2 separate regions of the Homo sapiens genome follow, and region 2 is linked to region 1. The links come from fine-mapping of genetic effects on gene expression. A gene starts in region 1. The other region holds a variant in brackets. All regions are shown on one strand. Distances are between the middles of the regions.

The links.
Region 2: its variant is fine-mapped to the expression of PAX6 in monocytes after LPS (Fairfax 2014, PIP 0.91).

What each region holds. Positions count from the first base shown.
Region 1 is chr11:31,807,114-31,816,129 of GRCh38, forward strand. PAX6 (paired box 6) reads right to left here and starts at 4,209. Exons shown (of 14, transcript NM_001368894.2): 1 at 4,002-4,209; 2 at 3,715-3,902. RefSeq lists enhancers at 3,775-4,344, 4,047-4,104, 5,452-6,420, 8,482-9,016, a promoter at 3,992-4,401 and a silencer at 7,264-7,518.
Region 2 is chr11:32,269,920-32,281,684 of GRCh38, forward strand. No RefSeq gene overlaps it. Among named protein-coding and RNA genes, the nearest start is that of SNORA88, 130 kb to the left of the region's middle. The variant C/CTT (reference allele first, on the strand shown) is at 5,584.

The DNA of each region.
Region 1 (9,016 bases):
TTAAAAGAGGCTGCTCTGGTCTGGCTTGGGAGAATTGGAAAATCTAGCAAGTTCGGATCCCACTTTGCAAAAATATAAAGAACCAGGAAAAGGGGAAGGGGGAAACAGGAGGAACAGTGGAGTAAGGAGTAGAGGCCAAGAGCTGAGGTTGAAGGGGTGTGAGGGGAGAGGAATACCTGAAGTTTGGAGACCAGGGGAAGGGAACCTTGGAACTTCCTGGTGCCGGAGAGCATAGGCTGGAGCAGTTTGGGAGGGCTGCAGGGCCACACTCCCTCCTTCCTTAAGGAACTTCACAAGACCCCCAGAACCCAACACTCTGCTTACCCTTTATCTTCTACTCCTCTCCCTACACCAAAAAAACTTCCCAATGGCCCCCTCTCCATCTACCTCCCAGCTTTCTGGGACTTTGAAAGGGGCAAGCCCAACTTTTTATCCCAAACCTCACTTATTGTGATTAACTTCTCTTTTGGCGTTTAGATCTTCACCCCTTTAACTGTACTGTGACACACCCTGTCTACCTCGCCTCACTGCTTTAAAAAGTACGAACAGGAGGGGGTGAGCGTGGTCGACAAAGCCGACAGACGGCAAACAATGGCTTCTATTCTCCAGCTTTCCTCGAACCCAAGGAGCAAAACCGAGTCTCCCTAACCAGCAACACAGCTTCCAACCAAATGTACCAACAACCCACCAACTCACAAAGGGAACAGAGGGACGCTTCTAGCTTCATAAGCCCTGACCCAGTGCAGGGGTCCCCGAGGCTGCTCCCGTACGAACACCTCCCTACCTTTCCCAAAGGAAAAAAAAAAAAAGTCTTTTGGGTGAGTGGAGAAAATAGAAAAGTAATTTCTTGTTGTAAATATCTGGAGGTAATTGTGTTACTGGTGTGAGTTGTTAGGGGCTGTAAAAAGATACAACGGCACCGTGGGGAGCTCAATTGGGAAGAGAGAGTTACAATAAAGAGCCCATTCAAGAGGTCTGCCCCCCAAAAAGAGGTAAAATAACAAAACAGTCACAGCATCATTTCTCTCTGTTTTTTTTTAAATGCATTATTTTTTCTGTTTTACCTATGGTGATTATTGATCTGCCTGCCTGCAAGCAAAGAATTTCAAGAAGCACATTTTACTCTACAAGGCCATTCCTGGTCTACTTTTTAACTACTTGGTAGACAGCTTAAATCCATAAAAATAAACCGAAAATGAGGACTTTTTCTCAGCATTGGGTAAATACTGGCCACAGCAGAGGGTTACTAGTTACCCTTATCTAGGTTGGCTCTCCAATGCTTCCTTCCTGTCTCTCAGTCCCGGCACCCATAGCCATGCCCTGGATAGGCAAAATCTCCAACTCTAATGCAAAATACCCCACCCCAACAAATGCAGGACCCTGAAGCTGCAAAGGAGTAGTAGGTGGGGAGATGGGGAATGGAATTCCCCTAGGAGGGGTAAAACTTCCAGAACTCCACTTTGTAACCCACGCTGTGCACAATCACAACAGAATGCTCCCATCCTGGCTTGTAACTTCTTGATACCATTTTTTTTTAAATTCAGTAGCTGAGCACAAAGAGGCCTCGTTGATTAGTTTTCGAAGCAGCTGGGAAGGTGGTAGTATTTCAAATTCCAGTTCTGCTCCATTCCCACTTCCCTCTCGCTAAGAAGCTATCTAATTACTTAAGTAAACGTGAACACTAAGTGCAGAAGCAACCCGGGAAGTGGGGCACATCGACACCCGGAAGCAGTCCTGTGCACCGGAGAGGTCAGACCCCCAACTGCAGCCTCAGCCCCCCAGCTCAGCCCGAGGCTCTGTACGGCCTCGCTGGGGCCATAGAACCACATCCTGAACGAAGGAGTCTCCAGACATTTTGGAGTCGCCCCAGCCTTGGACCACAAGAGAGTGGTCACTGCCCCCACCTCTCTGTCCCCAACACAAGCCTCAGTTTTCAAATGCTGTTCTTTTTTTAATTACTTAATTCTCAAATTCCATCCCCAAACTCTTTAACTGAGGTAAAGGGGAGAGCTCTCGGTCCTCCCGCCCCCAGCCAAAAGAGTAATTAGCAATTATGATGACAAAGTTTTACTCTCTAGGGCCAAATAAGATAACAACTAATCAAACTGCCTTCACGCTTTTGCAAAGGTCACTGGCTATAAAAAATGTAATGTCAACCGCAACAACTATTATTTCTCTTCAGTAAACTCGCCAGGCTCAAGCTCTTTGCCTTTCATTTCATTTTCTGCTCCCAGCCCCTTCTAAAACCTTCCCAAGTTCGAGTTAAACGTCCAGAATGGCTTAGGGAGCTTGGGAGAGTATAAGAAAAATAAAAAGGAAGAAAGAAAGAAACCACGTTCACTTTGTTTTTAAACTTTCTAGAAATCGCTCATGAATGAAGAGCCAGGTTTTAGCACTCGAAAAAGAAAGCATTTCCACTTGAAATTCAACTCCATTTCCCCCAATTACACTTGCTAAAATTCAGGGCTATTATGGCGCAGGGAGACTGAGAAAATCTGCACAAGGAAAGAGGCAACAACTTTATGAACTTTGAAAAGACACTTTTCCTCCTGGGATCTTAGAATCGAAAGCTCTCAAATTACTCCGACTAATTAGCCGGGAGAAGAAGTGATCAGACGAGGGGGAAGGCCAATGCTTTCATACAGATTTATTTTCAAGGCCTTACCAAGAAAAACATAAGGGGATTCGGAGTAAAACAAACAAAAAAGCAAACCAACTCTGCACCTCAAAACTTGCTGAAATCCCAACACCTGGTGAGACTGGATCAGAGGAAAACAAGGAAAAATACCCACCAAGCGCAGGGGGCCGGAGAACAGGGAAGAGCCCCAGCCTCCGCAAGGCAAGGGAGATGAGAGTCGGGGGAAGCCTGGGGAGCAGAGAGTTTTCAAGTTCCGAGCTCAGCGCTCCAGTGGAGTTGGGGGCAAGAGCCCGGGGGCTGGGTGGAAGCTGACAGTCCTCCCGCTCGGCTCTGAGCTCCCTCGGAGCGCGCGTTCCACCGCCTTGGCCTGGTGGCTTCCTTCCCGGCTCGCGCTAGCTCGCTCTTCCCTCTACCTCCAGCGTGCGGCTGCCTTGCCGACTGACTCCACTCGGGCTGGTGGCGGGCGCGGTGCCCCCCTCGGCGCTCGAGTGCCGGCTGACTCTTCTGCGCCGGAGCCCAGTGCGGCACAAAGCCCGAGGGCCGGCGGGCGGGCGGAGACGCGGCGAGCAGGTTCCCTCGGCGCTCCCTCGGCGAGTCCTCGGAGCGCCCGCTCTCTGCGCGTTCGCTGGGCCTCGGGCTGGACAAAGCAGCCGGCAGCGGTTGCTCTCTGCGGCCGTTCCAGGGCCTTGGGCACCACAGAGCCTCTTCGTCTTTTCCCGCGGGTCGGGAGCATTGGGCGACGCTGGGGCTAGGAGCCGCGGCTGCTGTCGCGCCTGGAGTCTCCCTTCTTCCCGCGAGCTCAGCCCGCGCTGGCGCTGGCGCTGGCGCTGGGGCTGAGCTGGCCGCCCGCCCCGAGCCCTGCGCCGCTCCCGCTCGCCGGCAGTCGCCCTCCGACGCGGGCTTTCGCTGGAAGTAGAAAGTTTGGGCTCCTGCGTGGAAACTTCTCCGGCCCAACTCTCCCGGCGTAGCAGTGGGGGAGGGGACCGGCGAGAGGGGAGGAAGGAAGGGGGGAGGAAGGGGGAGACCTGTCTGAATATTGCAATAAAAATAAAGCGAGAAGAAAGAAGCGGACTCACCTTTATGAGGCATCCTTTCTGGTTGTCACAGCTTCTGTCAAGAGTTTTGTTTGGTTGGGGTTTTTTGTGCTGCTGTTGTTGCTTGAAGACCACAATGGTTTGAAATGACGGTGTTTTAAAGGAGTTGCTGGTGAGAGTTTTCTCCACGGATGTTGCTGGGTTGGTGTGTGAGAGCAATTCTCAGATTCCTGGGAAGGAGACAGAGATTGACAATAAAATGGGCTGTCAGCGGCTGGAGAGTGAGAGATAAAGAGTGTGGGTGAGGGAAGTGGCTGCAGCCAGCACACCTATGCTGATTGGTGATGGCTCAAGTGTGTTAATGTGTGTGTGCCGGCGCCCGGCCTCGCCTCCACCGCTCCTCACTGGCCCATTAGCGAAGCCTGACCTCTGTCATCATCCTCCAGCAAAACACTTCCTCCTGCGCCTGAACCAGAGCGGGAAATGAGGCCGAGCCACGGTTCCCTTTTCAAACCCACTAATCACTCCGCAACATGCAAATGCACCGCTCGCTCTCACACAAAATATTGCTTTATGCAAAGCAGCGCCGGGGCCTCGCGCCAGCCGATTGGATGCTCCCTCTCCCCGCCTGGTGCAATTGGTCCGTTTGTTTGAATATGAATACACTTGTTTTCGGCTCCGCCGGTGGGTCCCGGCTCCTCTCCCCGGCGCAGGGCCCCCGAGCCCGGGCTCTGGCGCTCGCCTGCATCTCCCCGCTCCGCGCACGCCGAGATTCGGCGCGGCCCGCCCTGCTGCCGCGAACTTGAGCGGTCAAGTGAAGGTTTCTGGGTTGGGGGTCGCGCCCCCACTCCCCCTAAGCTGGACTCGGGACTCCCAGTCCTCGGAGGGTGCAAGTTTCTGTGCTGTCCTTTCTTGCCAACTCCAGGACAGCGTGGCCTGCCGCCCCGCCCCCGCCCGCCCCCACCCCATCCCAGCCGGGGCCCCAAGACACAGAGCACAGCGGCGGCCGCACCCCAGCCCACCTGGCCCCTTGGAAGAAGAGGAAAGGGGCGGGAGCGTCACTGGGTCCTGGCAGCTCCATTCCAGCTGCGGAGGCCGCGGCGAAGCCTAGGCCGAGAGGAGGTTGCCGGGCCGAGAACTAAACGAGGCCAGAGGCCTCCCCAGCCCAAGCCTCCAGGGCCTGTCCAAATCCTCCACCCCGCTCTCCCCGCCCTTTCTTCTCTCCTTTCTCCTTTCGGAAGCCGCGGTGCGCAGCGGAGCAGAGGCACAGCTCTGGCTGGAGAGGCCCGAGTAAACACGCCACTTACTTTGTGTACAGAGGGTTCTTGTGAAAAGCCCTGAAGAGTCCTCACCAAACACTCACCAACTTCTCCCACGTGCCATTTGTTGACTAAGTGCGGCTGCTTTTCGCAGCGCCCGAGAGGAGGGGAAGCCAGGGGAGATAAGAGGGGAGGGGGAGTGGAAGCCTGGGTGGGGGGGCGGATGACCAATGCTGGGAGGGATTCTCTCTCTCTCTCTGTGTGTGTGTGTGTGTGTGTGTGTGTGTGTGTGTGTGTCCCACTGGCGATGTCGGTATGTCAGCGTGTGTCGTGTGTGCCACCGGTCATCTGTGTGTGGTGCGTGTGTCTCCGCACCACGACTCCCTCTCCTGGGTCTGCTCAGTCCACGGAGGCAGCTCCCCTTCAGCTGTTGCCAGAAAACCGGGGAGGAAAGTAAGTAAATGGCTTTTCTCTTCTGACCACACACCAGAAGTCCATTTGTTGAATGCCGCACGATTAGGACACACCTCAGTACACTCCAAAGGCGCCCCTCGGAGCCTGCAGTTAAGGTGACAGGAGAGCGAGCGGCTGCCTGGTCCTGCGCTGTCCCGAGCTCTCTCGGCGGCTTCGGGCCACGGAGCCGGGAAGGAGAAGGAAGGCCTGGGCTGCTGTACACACCCCAGGACAGGGCGAGGGGGAATAGGGCTGAAGAGCTGAGGCAGGGAGGCTGAAATGAAGCAGCCGAAGGGTACGCTAGACTCTTCTTGACTTAGGGAAAGTGCTGAAAGTCAGAGCTCATCAATAAAATCTGCGCGACCTGAACTCGCTGCTGACTGGCCGCGTCGCCGCAGCCCCTGGCAGCCGGGACAGTGAGGACGCTGCAAGCCGCCCTGGGCCGCCGGGCCACATGTGGGCCTCACCCTCTCGTTCCTGCCTGGGACCCAGCAGCCCTGCGACCAAGGAGCCCGGGCAGGGCTCCCGGGAAGCAAAGGCCTCCCCGGCCCTAGCCAGAGGTGGGGTCGCATAACCCTCTCCCCTCCCCGGGCTGGGGAGGGCTGCCGGCTCTAACCCTTCCCCGGGAGCTCGCAGCGCCGGGAGGAAACCTGGGTCAGAGGTGAAGGAGGTGGCGCCGGGTGTCCAGGTCCGCGGCCTCCTGGGCGAGGTTTCATTTCGCAGGAGCGCGACTTTCGGAGGATGCCGGCAAGTGGGGCCGCGGCCCTGAGTCCCAGACCAGCGAAAGTCGGCTTTCTCTTTCTCTCTCCTTTTACTTTCCAAGCGAGCATTAAAGAAGCTTGGACTCAAGACTCAAGTCCGCTGTGCATGAGCGAGGGACTTGCGGGGGGGCGGGGGGGGGGGAAGTGATTCTGTCCGAACTGGAGGCGAGTATCATTTTTACAACCTCTCAATTAGCGACCGAGTGGATTAGCACCTTCTTAAGCTTTGCCTCGGAAAGAAGCAGCCGTAATCTTGTTGCTATTTCCCCCCAGGGCACTGGCTCTTTGAATCAGCTCCTTCTCCCACCCCTCCAACCCCCATCTCGCTGCGGAGAAAAGTTTTAACAAAAAATCAGAAAAGGCAAGGAGCGAGGAGTGAATGCCACTGACGTCATTGGGTGGGGAAGGGGGCTCCGGGAAAGACTCCTGGAAACTCCTCCGCACAAACAAAAAACAAAAAGGACTTGGCTGCTTCCCATGTGTCAATATTTGGGGAGGGGAGTTCAACCCCAGAATGAGGCCGAGTTTTCAAAGTTTAAGGAGAGAGGGGTGAGAGTGAGATTTCCTCGTTCTCTCTGGACTGGTCTCAAGGAAGGTGGGGGTGCTGTTCTACCTCGTGGGGAGCCTCACTCCCTCTGCCAAGTACCGGCTCTGGGGGCGAAGCGGCCTAGGGGTGTGGGGGCCGAGACTGAGGTGCGGGCGCGGTTGCCAGAGGTGTGTACAAAACCGAGACAACTCGCAGGTCGCCATTTTAATTGCGGCTACCAACACGCCCGAGGCCCACTTGCTGCCCTCCAAGACGCGGGGGGGCGGCGGGGATTGCGCTTTAGGTTCTGTCTCCTTTCCCCGCCTCCCCACAGGCCCCTGTTCCCCCCTACCCTCCGCCCCCTGTGGCCAGAGGGAGGACCTCTCAGGCCGGCGGGTGCGTTCCCGCGGGGGCCGCCGGGGTCGTCCCACCCGGTAGCGGGGCTGTCTGCGTGGAGGGAGTCCCGCTGGGGGACCGTGGCTCGCCAGAGCCTGCCCAGAGCTTCTAGCCAGTATTGATGCGTCAACATGAGGTGAGGCAAGCATCTCACCCGCACCGATCCCTGGCATTCCCCTGTGCCCACCCCATCAGGCCTTCGGGGAGGCAAAGAAGTGCCCACTTCTGGGGGGAAGTGCCTCCAGCTCCCAGCTTCAGAACCAAGAGCCTCCCATCCGGAGTTCTGACAGTTCTGACACCTCCAAACTCTCTCTTTCCCCGGTCAAGCAGAGGCGCAGCGCCGGCGCGCTGGAAAGGGTGAAGACTGGCATTTTTTGGAGAAGGAAAGTCTTGGCAGACACCTGCGTCACTTTGTAGTGCCCCAAACGTCTCTCTTTTTGCAGACCCTGGGAAGGTGGGATCCCTTGTCCGCGGAGCTGGCAAACGGGTCCAGTGAGCCCTAAAGGCAAAGGCTCCCATCCCGGCCGCCCAGTCCCTGGTGCCTCCCCCACTTCCAGGCCTTTGTCCCTCTCCTTTCTCCAGCAACCTGCCGGTTCCCGCTAACCCGGCAGCCTCGCCGAGCCCAGAGCCTAGAAAAGCCAAGAAGATCCCAGAGCCGCCCCGTGGCACCTTCAGGCTGTGGCCACTGCTCGGCTTGGGGGGAAGCCGCGGTGCCCTCGCCCTTCCTCGCCTCCTGCCAAATGGCCAGTGCTAGGGGCTCCCTGGGTTCAGTCCTCAGTCCTCTTCCGTTCGCTCTGGGAGGCCAGCCTGTCTCTCTCTCTCTCTCTCTCTCTCTCTCTCTCTCTCTCTTTCTCTCTCTGTCTTCTCCCTGCCCACCCCCAAAATACCTTTAAAATAACATTGTCCAGTGGAGTCTCCCAGCAAAGGGATTCCTAGCAGCCCAGCGGGTCAGACTCCCAAGGCTTTGCCTCCCAGTCCCTCCATGCTGTTGTCCAGATAGGAGTTAGGTTTAAAACTCCTGACATGTAGGACAACTGAAATCAGCGGCACTCTCCGATTTTTGCAAATAGGGTTCCTAGAAAAGTTTGCTTTCCATTTCATCACCCTGTGACGATCCCCCCATCTCTCTTTTCCCTGTAACCTCTGCCCCCAAGAGGCAAGAGTTCAGCTTCAAAGGAAAAGCAAGCAAGTCAAGGCCACCTCAGTCCCTTCTCCCTGGATATCCCCTCTCTAAACCGCTGCCTATTCTAAAGGCCAACGACCCGGTCCTGCGATTTGTCCCGTTGTAGACCTGGGAACAGGCAGGCGGGAACTGGGGGCTTTACTGGGGGATTTGAGGCTGGGGAGGGGGAGGGAGCAAATGTCATGGCTGGCTCGCTCAAGCATCCAGGGAACCGAAGCTAAGCGCATCCTGACGGGCTTTTAAAATGACATTGATTAGGACAAGCTGTTCCCAACCCCAGTAAGAGTTAATCTGCCTGTTAATCAAGGCACTAAGGGGCTCAATGCGAGTTTTATTAGCGACAGGAGAACAGAGGCGGCAGCCAGGGATCAAAAGCCGGGATCCCATATATTTGTCAGCGCTATCTCCAAAAAAAAAAAAAAAAGTATTTTCAATTTGAAAACAATTCGGCGCTTTTCGTCACTTCCTAACCCAGTCTCACAGAGGGTGACTTCCAAACCTGGCTAGCGGGGAAAACCGCTGCCCGGGGGACAGAGGGGCTGACAGGAACTGCGGGTTGGCTCAGCCGAATGCGGCCGGGGAGAATTTAAGAATTCTCAGCCCGCGCGGCCCGATGCCTCTGATTCCTCACGAGAGGAAAGGGAATGAAAAATGAAGCAACAAATGACACCACCCAGGCTGGCAGCCCTCGTTCCCGGCCAGACCCCGCTCCTCAGGCCCGGCTCTGGCGCCGGGTGGCGTCCAGCCCCTGCACGCGCGGCGCGGC
Region 2 (11,765 bases), 460 kb after region 1:
GGATCAAGTAACATGGCCTTCCAGGCCAGTTTAAGGAATATCTTAGGTCCTAATGGCACTTTCCAGTTTGTAAGCATATCTTTTTAGTTTACAAGAAGCCTCATTCAGCCTAAAACTACCAAGATGTGCCATGATTTACTACAAGTTGAAAACAGAATCCTATATCCAAATATCATGTTTCTTCAAGCAGTTTGTACTAACTGTGAGTAAATATATTATCCCTGGCATTCACAAATGTTGGAGAGAACTGGGAGAAATCTTAAAAACCTAAAGATTCCTAAAGCCTCTAAGCCAAAGTAAACAGGCCAAGTGTGCTAATCATACAACAAACGTAGAAGGCTGAGACCTTCGCTCAGAGCTTTACGAAGGTACACTAAATCTCACTTTGATTCAAGCAGGATTTTCAAGATACGAATTTCACTAAGGCACAAACTGAATAGAATCACGTCGGTATAATCCTCACATATTTCTGCCAGCTGGGATCCTGGATGTTGAGATGTGACTGCCTCTCCAAGGGCCTGAAACCACCAGTCTGTTTTACATGGGTCGCCACACAGCCATCAGATGGAAACACTCTGTGGTCACTACGCTAACAGATCCAAATCACCTACGTCAAAAGAAAAGGCTACAGCTCCCATTTCCAATCTCCCAAGCCACCCCAGTCCCTCTGCAATGGATAGAGAGACTAAATGAATTGTTTACTTAATTGTGCTGTGCAAGCTGGATAATTGCATGCTTTCCAGGAAGGCTTTGTAACCAATGAGATGGCACTGAATCTGCCAAAACCTGTACCTTGAAGCCAACATCCTTTCTTTCTATAGACCCTCTCCTATCAGAAATAAAGGCAACCCTGGTATTATTTCTAGAGGAGGCAAAACCATGGTAAAAACATCAAAGATCATGTCTTTCAAAATGGAAAAATCTCCATTAAGCTGAACCCACTGAGAACCGCTATCTCCATATTTGCCAGTGTGGAACCTTTAGAGTCACAAACCTTGATTTAACTAACTCATTACACACTGAAACAGCCAACAAATGGCAAAATAATCTACCTTAGCAGGAGAACAATTGGTCCATTACATAGAAAGACCACATTTTAAGAGGAGAAGGGAGATACAATTAAAAAAAGGGGGTTGGGAAGTATTTTTAAATTATCCAATAGTGTGCAAGAAGACTACAAAGATGGAAAATGGGATTTTATTTATTTGTCAGTCTTCAACAGGACTAAAAAATCGATTAATGCCAAAGTAGAAAATACTGAAATGATGTATTGAGGGAAAAAAGAAAACCCTTAAGGGTAGCAACAACCAAATGTTTAGGCAAAGAAAACCCCATATGCTATGATTTGAATGTGCCCCCCAAAGTTCATGTGTCAGAAACAATTCCCAATGCAACAGTGTTGAGAGGTGGGAATTTAAGAGGTGATTGGGTCATGAGGGCTTTGCCCTCATGAGTGTATTAATTTGTTAGCAAGGAAAGGAGTGAAAGGAGTGGTTTGGCCCCCTTCCTTCCCCCTCCCTACTCCCACACTCTCTTGTCCTTCCGCCTTCCACATTGGAATAATGCAGCAAGAAGGTCCTCTTCAGATGCTGGCCCCCGGACCTTAGACCCCTCACCTTCAGAACTGTGAGAAATAAACTTCTGTTCTTTATCAATTACCCAGTCTGTGGTATTCTGTTATAGCAGCACAAAACAAACTGAGACACCATATTACTTAATAATTAGTCAAGAGAACAAAGCTAAATGAGATGCTTTTAAAACTCCTTCCCCAAAGCCATTTATAAAACGTGTTTGAAATGTTAACAAACACAATGGAAGTTCTCAAATCCAAATACTTGCTTTTGGTAAAGTAACTATTTGCAGCACTTCATACTTACTTCGTTGATTTCCTTCTGAGCAGGCAATACATTTCGAGACATGTTCACAACTGAAAAGTACCTCTCCTATCCAGATCTCCAGCCACCCGTTCTCCTTCCCAGAGGCAACCACTGTTACTGATTTCTTATTATTCTTCCAGATCTTAGATCCAAATACTCTTTAAACTCAATTTTGCAATATTTTTCCATCTATATGTTCTTTCCCATTACCCTCTTGTTTTTATTTCTTATAATGGTTTTCATTAATAGCAATCAGAGTGTTTTTTCCTAGATAGGTCTATGTTCATACAGAGTTTCAGCTTCTCCAACTGGCTATTTCTTCTCAGATGCCATAATCTCCCATGATACAGTCTAATCGACATGCCTCACTAACAGGATTAAGAGTTTAAAGGAACAGTACTCCTCAGGAACTGCCAAGAGTGTGAAGATGCTTTTTTTTTTTTTTTTTTTTTTGAGACAGAGTCTCGCATTGTCACCCCAGCTGGAGTGTAGTGGCACGATCTTGACTCACTGCAACTTCCACCTCCCAGGTTCAAGTGATTCTCCTGCCTCAGCTTCCTGAGTAGTTGGGATTACAGGTGCCTGTCACCACGCCCAACTAATTTTTTTGTATTTTTAGTAGAGATGGGGTTTCACTATGTTGGTCAGGCTGGTCTCAAACAGCTGACCTTGTGATCCACCCACCTTGGCCTCCCAAAGTGCTGGGATTACAGGCATGACCAACTGCGCCTAGCCGAAAATGCTATTTTTATGCAAATATCCTTCAAAAATCTAGGAGGTTCAAAAAAATGGAAAATACAGTGTAGCTGCTACCAAGATGAAGTTTTAAGAATGTTTCAATCTTGACAGGACAATGTTACCCTGACTCAAGCGCCAGTTGGCTTGGCTGTTGGATGTCAGTCAACCTTTTCTGATTTTTCAGGGTTAGATTGTCCCAGAGCAATATTTGTCTGAAACACACCCTTGAATGAGTTTGGGAATGGGAAAGAAATGATGGGTAGTGGGAGGGTCAGGAGGGAGGATAGGAGAGCACCACACATAGTCAGGGGAGGCTTTCAAAAGAGTCTTGACTCTAAGAATACCCAAAAAGAAAGGTAATGCAAATTTCAAACATACCACATGCATTTTCTTTTCCTTCCCAAATCCCACTAAGGCTATTTTTTTAAATCCAGGTTCTAGTCCTGGTTTTGTCATGACCTTAATTTACCCTTCACCTAATCACCTTTGACTCAGTTTCTTCATCTATAAACTGAGGGGCTTGGCCTCACTGAGTTCTAATGTCCTTTATACATTTAATCTTCTATGAGTCTAAGATGCAATTTCTCTCCATATGTTGAATTATAAGCCTACTATGTGGGTATAAAATTCCTTCAATTTCCCACAACTTATTTGCCATGAAATAACAAACTGTGTAGACTTTTAAATGTTTTCAAGGGCCAGGCGCGGTGGCTCACGCCTGTAATCCCAGCACTTTGGGAGGCCGAGGCGGGCAGATCACGAGGTCAGGAATTTGAGACCATCCTGGTTAACATGGTGAAACCCGGTCTCTACTAAAAATACAAAAATTAGCCAGGCGTGGTGGCGCACACCTGTAATCCCAGCCATTTAAGAGGCTGAGTCAGGAGAATCGCTTGAACCTGGGAAGCAGAGGTTGCAGTGAGCCGAGATCATGCCACTGCACTCCAGCCTGGGTGATGGAGTGAGACCCTGTCTCAGAAAAAAAAAAAAAAAAATGTTTTTAAACCTTCATCAGAGAAGTTACTCTAATGGACAGTTGTCATTCTGAAGATGTCCAGCATCCACTCCTCCTCTTTTACAACACCTGATTTCTTTTAGAAGTATCTGCATTCAATTTGGGGGGATAAATCTAAGTGTTTGCCTCCCCAAACTACAAAGTTTAAGAAGAACCAGAAAGTTTCTTCTTCCAGGCTTTCCCTTCATAAATCAATACATCCATAGGATGGACATGTGACCTACCAACTTTTCTCCCCCAGGACTTCTCTAGCAGAACAACACAGGAGCAAAACAAACAGCTAGCATTCATTCTCTCTAGAAGCAGTAATTTCTTCTACAAAGTTTTCTGTTCTTCAGCTTTCCCTTCAATCCTGCAAACAACCCCATATTCGTCCAGTAAATTCCCTTTTTTACTTTAGTGGTTTGCCACATAACAATCCATTCCAAAACTTAACAGCTTAAGATAATAATCATTTATATACTCACCATTCTATGAATTGGCAATTAGGATAGGGCTCAGATGGGATGGTGTAGCTCCGCTCCATGTGGTGTCAGCTGGATTCACTTAAGCATCTGCAATCAGTGGGCAGATCAGCTGGGGGCTGACTGATCCCAAATGGCCTCACTCGCTCACTTTGTAGAAACCAAATGAAGTGCCGGCTGGAGCACCTTAGTTCTCCCTGTGTCCTCTCATTCTCAAGTAAATTAAACAAGGCTTCATTGCATGATGGAGAAATGTTCTGAGAGGATGAAAGGAAAAACTGCAACTTCCCTTTTCCTACATTCTATTCGTCAAATATAATTTTTAAATCAGCCTAGATTCAAGGGATAGGAGAATAGATTCCATCTTAATTAGAGAAGTGACCAAGAAACCTTTCCAAGAAAAGTGGATACAAGAAAAAATGAATCACTGGGGTCTCTTACTGTAAGCAATCTACCATGTTGGGCTTGGTGTTTGTTGCTTGTGACATAAGGACACTAACTGATCCACAATCAGTGTAATGTGACACAAAACACATTAGATTGTTGAGGCCTTAACATCTGGGACATTTTCCCTGTTTATACCTCACATCTCAATGGGATTAATCGGAAAGAATGTGGGTGTTGTGGTAGTGAGGGTATAAGAAGCACAAAATTTAAAGTGAAACTGCCTTGGTTCCAGACCTGCAGGTTACTTAGCTGTGCAATTTTGAACTTAATTAATCTCTGTGATTTTCATTCAAAATAAAAAGGGGAGTGACAATATCTGCCCTGAGTTGCAGAATTGTTGTGAATATTAAACAGTGTAACTCCATGAACTTCAGGCCATCCTCACTTTGCACTGTAGTGCAGGATCATAAAAATGGCCATGCAAGTTGAAACTGTGCCAAACTTTTTAATAATGAACAGGAAAAATTATCATATTTCCTTGACCTTTAAAAATATTGTCAAAACATTAAAAAACTCTCTCCCTATTGGTTATAAATATGAAGAAAAATGGAAGAAATAGTAAAATGAATGTTTGTTTTCTATGTTGATCTAAAGTGTTAGTAACATTGAGAATAAAATGCTTGATTTATTTGTAAAGAGCTTAACAATATTCATTTGAACAATGCTTGCTTTTTTATCATCATATAATTTACAATATGGAGTGAGCATCTTTCCTATGCCTTGGCAAATTGTCATACTCCTTTCAAAGTTTGGGTCAGCTTCCAACATTTTATCCCTTACGCTTTCAATGCCACAAAATATCTCCAAGGGTTCCTTTAATGTGAAGATTTTTTCCAGAATCATTTCCTCTGGGATATGTTGATCCCTTCATTACAACCACCTTCCTCATTTATGTCAGTAACTTTGCCTTGAACAGATTCTTCTGATTGCGTGTCTTTCAAAAGGCAGTAGTGTCAACATTCCCATGATCAGCTGTTTCTTCTGTAACTACATTTATGTTTGATTCAAACTTCATTTCCAGTGTTATCATTTTTTCTTTTTT[C/CTT]TTTTTTTTTTTTTTTTTTTGAGACGGAGTCTTGCTCTGTCGCCAGGCTGGAGTGCAGTGGCGCAATCTCAGCTCACCACAACCTCCGCCTCCCAGGTTCAAGCAATTCCCCTGCCTCAGCCTCCCAAGTAGCTGGGATTACAGGCACATGCCACCACGCCTGGCTAATTTTTTTGTATTTTAGTAGAGACGGGTTTTCACCACATTGATCAAGAGATCAAGATGGTCTTGATCTCCTGATCTCGTGATCCACCCACCTCAGCCTCCGAAAGTGCTGGTATTACAGGCATGAGCCACCACGCCCGGCCCTATTTTTTCGTTTCTTTTTTGCATCTTCTTTTTTTCTTTTGGCCAATTCCCTCTTTCAATTTTCCACATTTGTACAATGTTGCTCAGGTTTACCACTAAGAAACAAGATAATAAACTCCACACTTTGTTGTCTGTTTGTGAACTAAATAACAGATGCACAGTGACCAATCACTGAAAGACTTCGAAAGAAGTGACGGATTAGTCACCAATCATGATGCACATCTGTTACTTATATAGTGACTTGGTGGAACTAAAGAGCTAGCAGCAAAGTCTGTACTTCATGCAATTGCTCACAGCTAATATATGTGGTAACTAAAATTTGAATCATATTGTTGAGGGACTGGTGTTATTTAATTAAACTGTAGTAAGTGAAATTTGTGCATATCAGAACTATGCAAAACAAGGACTGCCTGTATTAAACATTATATAAGGTTTAACTATTGCCAGTTGTTATTAAGGAAGGAAAGACTAGACCTCATACTTGGTGCATGAAAGAAGGGGTTAGATTTAATTCAAACTTGCACTCAGCTCTAACAATTTTCATCTTTGTCCCTGTATTAATGCTAACTAGGCAGCAATGAAAGGAGAAGGAAGGACTGAAAACACAGCTATATTTTAACCTTTCGCATAGGGCTAGAAGGAAATTCCTGGAGAGGAAAACAGGGCATAACCAAACCTAAAGTTCGTCTAAAAGTGGGGAGATTTGTCCAAATTAAGTAGATCTTTTATCACTCTTTATTTCCAAGGCAAGAAGGAAAATCCTTCAATATTGTTTTCCATGAATGTGGCTGGTGGTCTCTAAAGATCCATTTTCACTTCTTTTGTAGTTGTAGAACCCCAAATTTTGGCTGGTTGTGCAGCTGCCCAGAACAAAAGGCCATATTTCCCAGCCTTCCTTGTAGCTAGCTGTGTCCATGATTAAATACTGCCCCATGAGATATAAATGAAAAGACTGTGGGGACTTGAAGACAGCACCTTAAAAGGAGCTGACAGTTTGGAGAAGCAACCTTTTTCCCTACTACTGTCTGGAATGTGGACAAAATATTAGAAAGAGCCCTCTTAGACCATGAAGCCATGGAAGCCAAGTAATGGGATAGTAGAAGACAAATACAGAAGGAGGCTTAGTCCTTCATGGATGTATGGAAACGTCATACCAGCTCTGGCTGCCTCTTTCCACACTTCTTCTATAATGTGTATTTAAGCCACTCTTTTTTTTTTTTTTTTTTTTTTTTTTTTGAGACAGAGTCTTGCTCTGTCGCCAGTGGCTGGAGTGGTGCAGTGGTGCGATCTCAACTCACTGCAGATCTCGGCTCACTGCAACCTCTGCCTCCCAGGTTCAAGCGATTCTCCTGCCTCAGCCTCCCGAGTAGCTGGGACTACAGGCATGTGCCACCACGCCCAGCTAATTTTTGTATTTTTAGTAGAGATGGGGTTTCACCATGTTGGCCAGGATGGTCTCGATTAGGCCACTCTTTTAGGTCTTTCTTACCCACATGTGGATACAGTTCCTAATAGATAAAATGAATACACTTATCTGTTCAGTGGCCTATTTTAGTGGCCCAAGTAGCAGATTGACTCTTTCACCACTGTCTTACATCCTTCTAGGCAGTAAAAGTACCAATAAAGCAGAAACACATGGGAAAAAAAAAGCCCTTCCCACAGTGTTGGATATTTAGAGGAACAAAGCTTATGGTTGTTTGCAAAGTCCTAATACAGATTCAAATAGTCAAAACTCAAACACAGACCTGGCTTAAGAGTTGTTTGGTTGGAAGGGAGATGAGAGGATGTAAAGAGGGTACTAGTTCACAGCAAACTCATTATAAAACAGAAGCCCTAAAATGTAATTCAGTATAAGGCTGTACTCACGTAAGTGTCTAGAGCAAAACAAAGGAAGTGTTAGCTCAGTTCTGGTCCCAGGTTAAAAGGCACATTTAACAAAAAGAAAGAAATTGAGGTGAGGGCAAGCAAGCTGGTGTAGATATCCCCATTCTGTGAAGGATGGGAGAAGGAACTTGGGTTCTGTAGCTGAGAGCAAAGAAGACACAGTAGAAATGTGACTGGCATTTCACTTATCTGATGTGCCATCACTTTATTTTGCATGGTTCCAAGCAGAATTAGGACCTATGACTGAAGTAAAATAAAATAGATTTTAACTCAATAAAAGAGAAAACCTTCTTGAGAATCAGAACTTTCCAGAATTGGAATGCACTAGTTTGTAAGGGAGTGAGTTACTTGACATGGTGGTGAATTTTTTTAAGAAAAGACCATAATGATATTCAGGGCCTATTCTGAAACTAAGAATAAAAAATAAAAGCATTGTTGTATCTTGAAATCCTTGGAAAATTAAAGTGATTTTGATTCTAGGCTGCCTATAAGTGAAGGAGATTAAGGGGAATTCTGCATTAAAAGGGAGACTGGACTAGGTAACATTTCCAGTTTGTGTGTGTGTGTGTGTGTGTGAGATGGAGTCTCATTCTGCTGCCCAGGCTGGAGTGCAGTGGAGCGATCTCAGCTCACTGCAACCTCTGCCTCCTGGGTTCAAGCAATTCTCCTGCCTCAGCCTCTGGAGTAGCTAGAATTACAGGCATGTGCCACCATGCCTGGCTAATTTTTGTATTTTTAGTAGAGATGAGGTTTCATCACATTGGTCAGGCTGGTCTCAAACTCCTGACCTCAGGTGATCCACCCACCTTGGCCTCCCAAAGTGCCTGGATTACAGACTTGAGCTACTGCGCCCCACCGCCCTTCCAGTCCTAACATTGTATTAATACTGTATTTTCCCGTTACATGTGAAACTATTTTTAAGTGGTTAATACACAATAACCCAGGAATCGAATAAATGCTCTCTGAGAAAAATGATGATGCTTGTATTGACCAGAACTCTTTCAATTGCAAGAGAAAGAAACTCAACTAGAGAGTTTGATGGGGAAAAATAAGAAACACGATGGCAGGAATAAATCTTACTTCCAGCATGGATGCTCAAACAATATGGTCAGAAATCTTTCTGTATCTCTTGGGTCAATTTTTCCTGAGCTGGCTTCAGTCTCAGGCAGACTCTCACCATGTGGAAGCCAAGCTCACCTCTGTCAGTTTCATACTTTCTTCTCTAGCCCAGCAATGTCAATGGGCAGAGAACTCCATTTTTCTCAAAAGTTTCTTAATCGACTTAGACTAACCTAGCTTCAGACACAAACCCATAATTAACTCAATTACTATAGACTTTGTATGACTAGGCTTGGATCACACAAACTGAGAATAGGGCAAGGATCATTTCTACATGAAAAGAGGGCTTCTGTTATCTGAAATACAGGATGTTTGGAAGAGAAAAATAATACATGTCTACTAGGATAACAATGAATGGAAGGTTTTTAAATGGCAACTTTATTACAATTCTGGGCCTATCCTAAATCTCAAAATAGGAAATGAAAACAACATGTATCATAAAATCTATGAGAAAATAAACTGAATTTGATTCTAGGCCTTAATCTAAAATTCTAATGCTCAGGCAAATAACAATTTTAACATGTCTGTCTTTTCACCAATTCCTTTTTTTCTCTTAAGATGTCTCTGTTCACAGACAAACTCATCAGACAAAATAATAGCAAACAAAGGGAAAAGCATAAAAAGGTTATTGAAGTGGATGAAGGCACGGCATGTAAAGAAAAATTCTTCATTAATAGCTGAAAAAATCTTTCTCTATATTTAATATTTAGGTGACAGATTTCTGTTTCAAGAGAAGTAAACATTACAGTCATGAATAGCAAACAGAAACACAAACTCCATTTATTTGTAAAATAAACTCATTTTCTTTTCAAATCAATGCAAAAAATGACCCAATGCCATATGTTCCATTTGCCATGATTCTAAGACAGCAAAGCTATACAATTTCTAGATCATTAGCTTGTCTTCCTATTTTTCCATGTCTTACAGTTCTGCTAGGTAAGCATTCGTTCATTCACTTTGATAATCCTACCTTTTATACGTTGGATTTGCTCAATTACTCCATGCAAAAACTACTGCTGCCAGCGGGTGGGGGTATAGAGGAGAAAAGGGCCCACCCCATAGTTTCTCTAAAAGAGCAAGAACTAAGACTATATTTCCAGTGGCTTCAAACAAAAGGGGGTTTTGTCTTTTGCTAGTCTTGAGTTTGAAAAAGGCATTCATACCCCCTCATTTTACACCATTGGAGCCAGGATGAATGCCACAGTACTCAGGGATAGCACAATGGGGCCAAGCAGCAGCATGTCAGCTCTGTAAGTAGTGGGTGACAAGATGGGTAATGTGTACCTGCAGTCATGTGGGGCTTGTGGAAGGGTCCTTGAGGTGAAGAGGAACAATCAAGGGGTTTCAGGTTATCTGTATAAAACCAGATAAGTAAAGTTCTGCAAATAAATCCCCAAATCTGACCTGAAAAATGTAATCCAGAGTCATTGCAATGATCTACGACAGAAACCCTGAGGATAGAAAGTTGTGTATCATTCCTTGTATCTCCCGTGTTTACTGCATTCCTTAGCTATCCAAAGAGAGATTTTTGCTGGCTTAAGCCATCTGAAATGGTTGCATGAGATTGAGGCCATTATGAAAAAAAAAATGTGCTCAATACCTGAGACAAGCTGTGGAATTCACACTAAATAGCTTCATCTATGTGACTTAGGATATAAAGTCATCAGTAGATGGTTACCCAAGAAATGAAAGTGGAACTAGAACACAAACTAAAGATACATGAACAAACAAACATGTTATCAGGATGTAGGAGGAAACAGTAACAAGGGGTATGAAAGAATGCAGCAACTCATGACAGGTGCAACTTGACACACTTCAATTTTACTACTTCTTTTTTGCAGATAAACTCAGGAATTGACAAATAAACAAATATAATAATAAGCGTGAGAAGATCAAGGTGGTTTATCATGCATGGATAAATAATTTTAATAAGTCCAGCACAGAGGATGTTGTTGAATCCTTTCTATAACTCCAGGAGGTAGTCACTAGTAATATCTCCATTGTATAAGACAGGAAAGTAGATCTCAGAGAATTCTGTGTAACTTATCTAAAGGCACATAGCTAGCAAAGGCAGAGCCAGAATTTTAACTCAATCAGTCAGATTCCCTGTGCTCTGTGCTTTACCATCAATGCTTTTTTCTTAAGCACTTTGCATGTACTTGCACATTTAATTTACTTCTTATAGCAATCCCATAATAGAAATTATTTCCATTTTTCCAATAGAAAACTGAGAAGGTAAATCATTTGTTCTTGACTCTAGTGGCAGAGCCAAGATTGGAATTTATGTCTGTCTGACTCTAGAACCTAGTATCCTAGACAATGTGGCACAGACTTCTACTCACCCACCAAAATCTATTCTCCTCTTCTTCCTGGAAACAAGGCTGCCAAGCTAAAACTACACATCTAAGTCTTCTTTACAGTGAGGTATGTCTATTTAACTAAGTTCTCACTAAAGGAATATAAGTGGAAGTATGTGCAACTTCTGAGTCAAGAGGAAATTATTTGCCCAGACTTCCTCTCTTTCTCTTTCCAACGAACTGGAATTCAGAATGGCAAAGGCGTTTCTTCATTATAGACAACGACTATATCCTAAGGGATGACAGATTTTAAAAAGTAGAAAACGCAGGCGTGGTGGCTCACACCTGTAATCCCAGCACTTTGGGAGGCCAAGGTGGGTGGATCATTTGAGGTCAGGAGTTTGAGACCAGCCTGGCCAGCATGGTGAAAAATCCCATCTCTACTAAAAATACAAAAATGAGCCAGGCGTGGTAGCACACGTCTGTAATCCCAGCTACGCAGGAGGCTGAGGCAAGAGAATTGCTTGAGCCCGGAAGACAGAGGTTGCAGTGAGCCGAAATTGTGCCACTGCA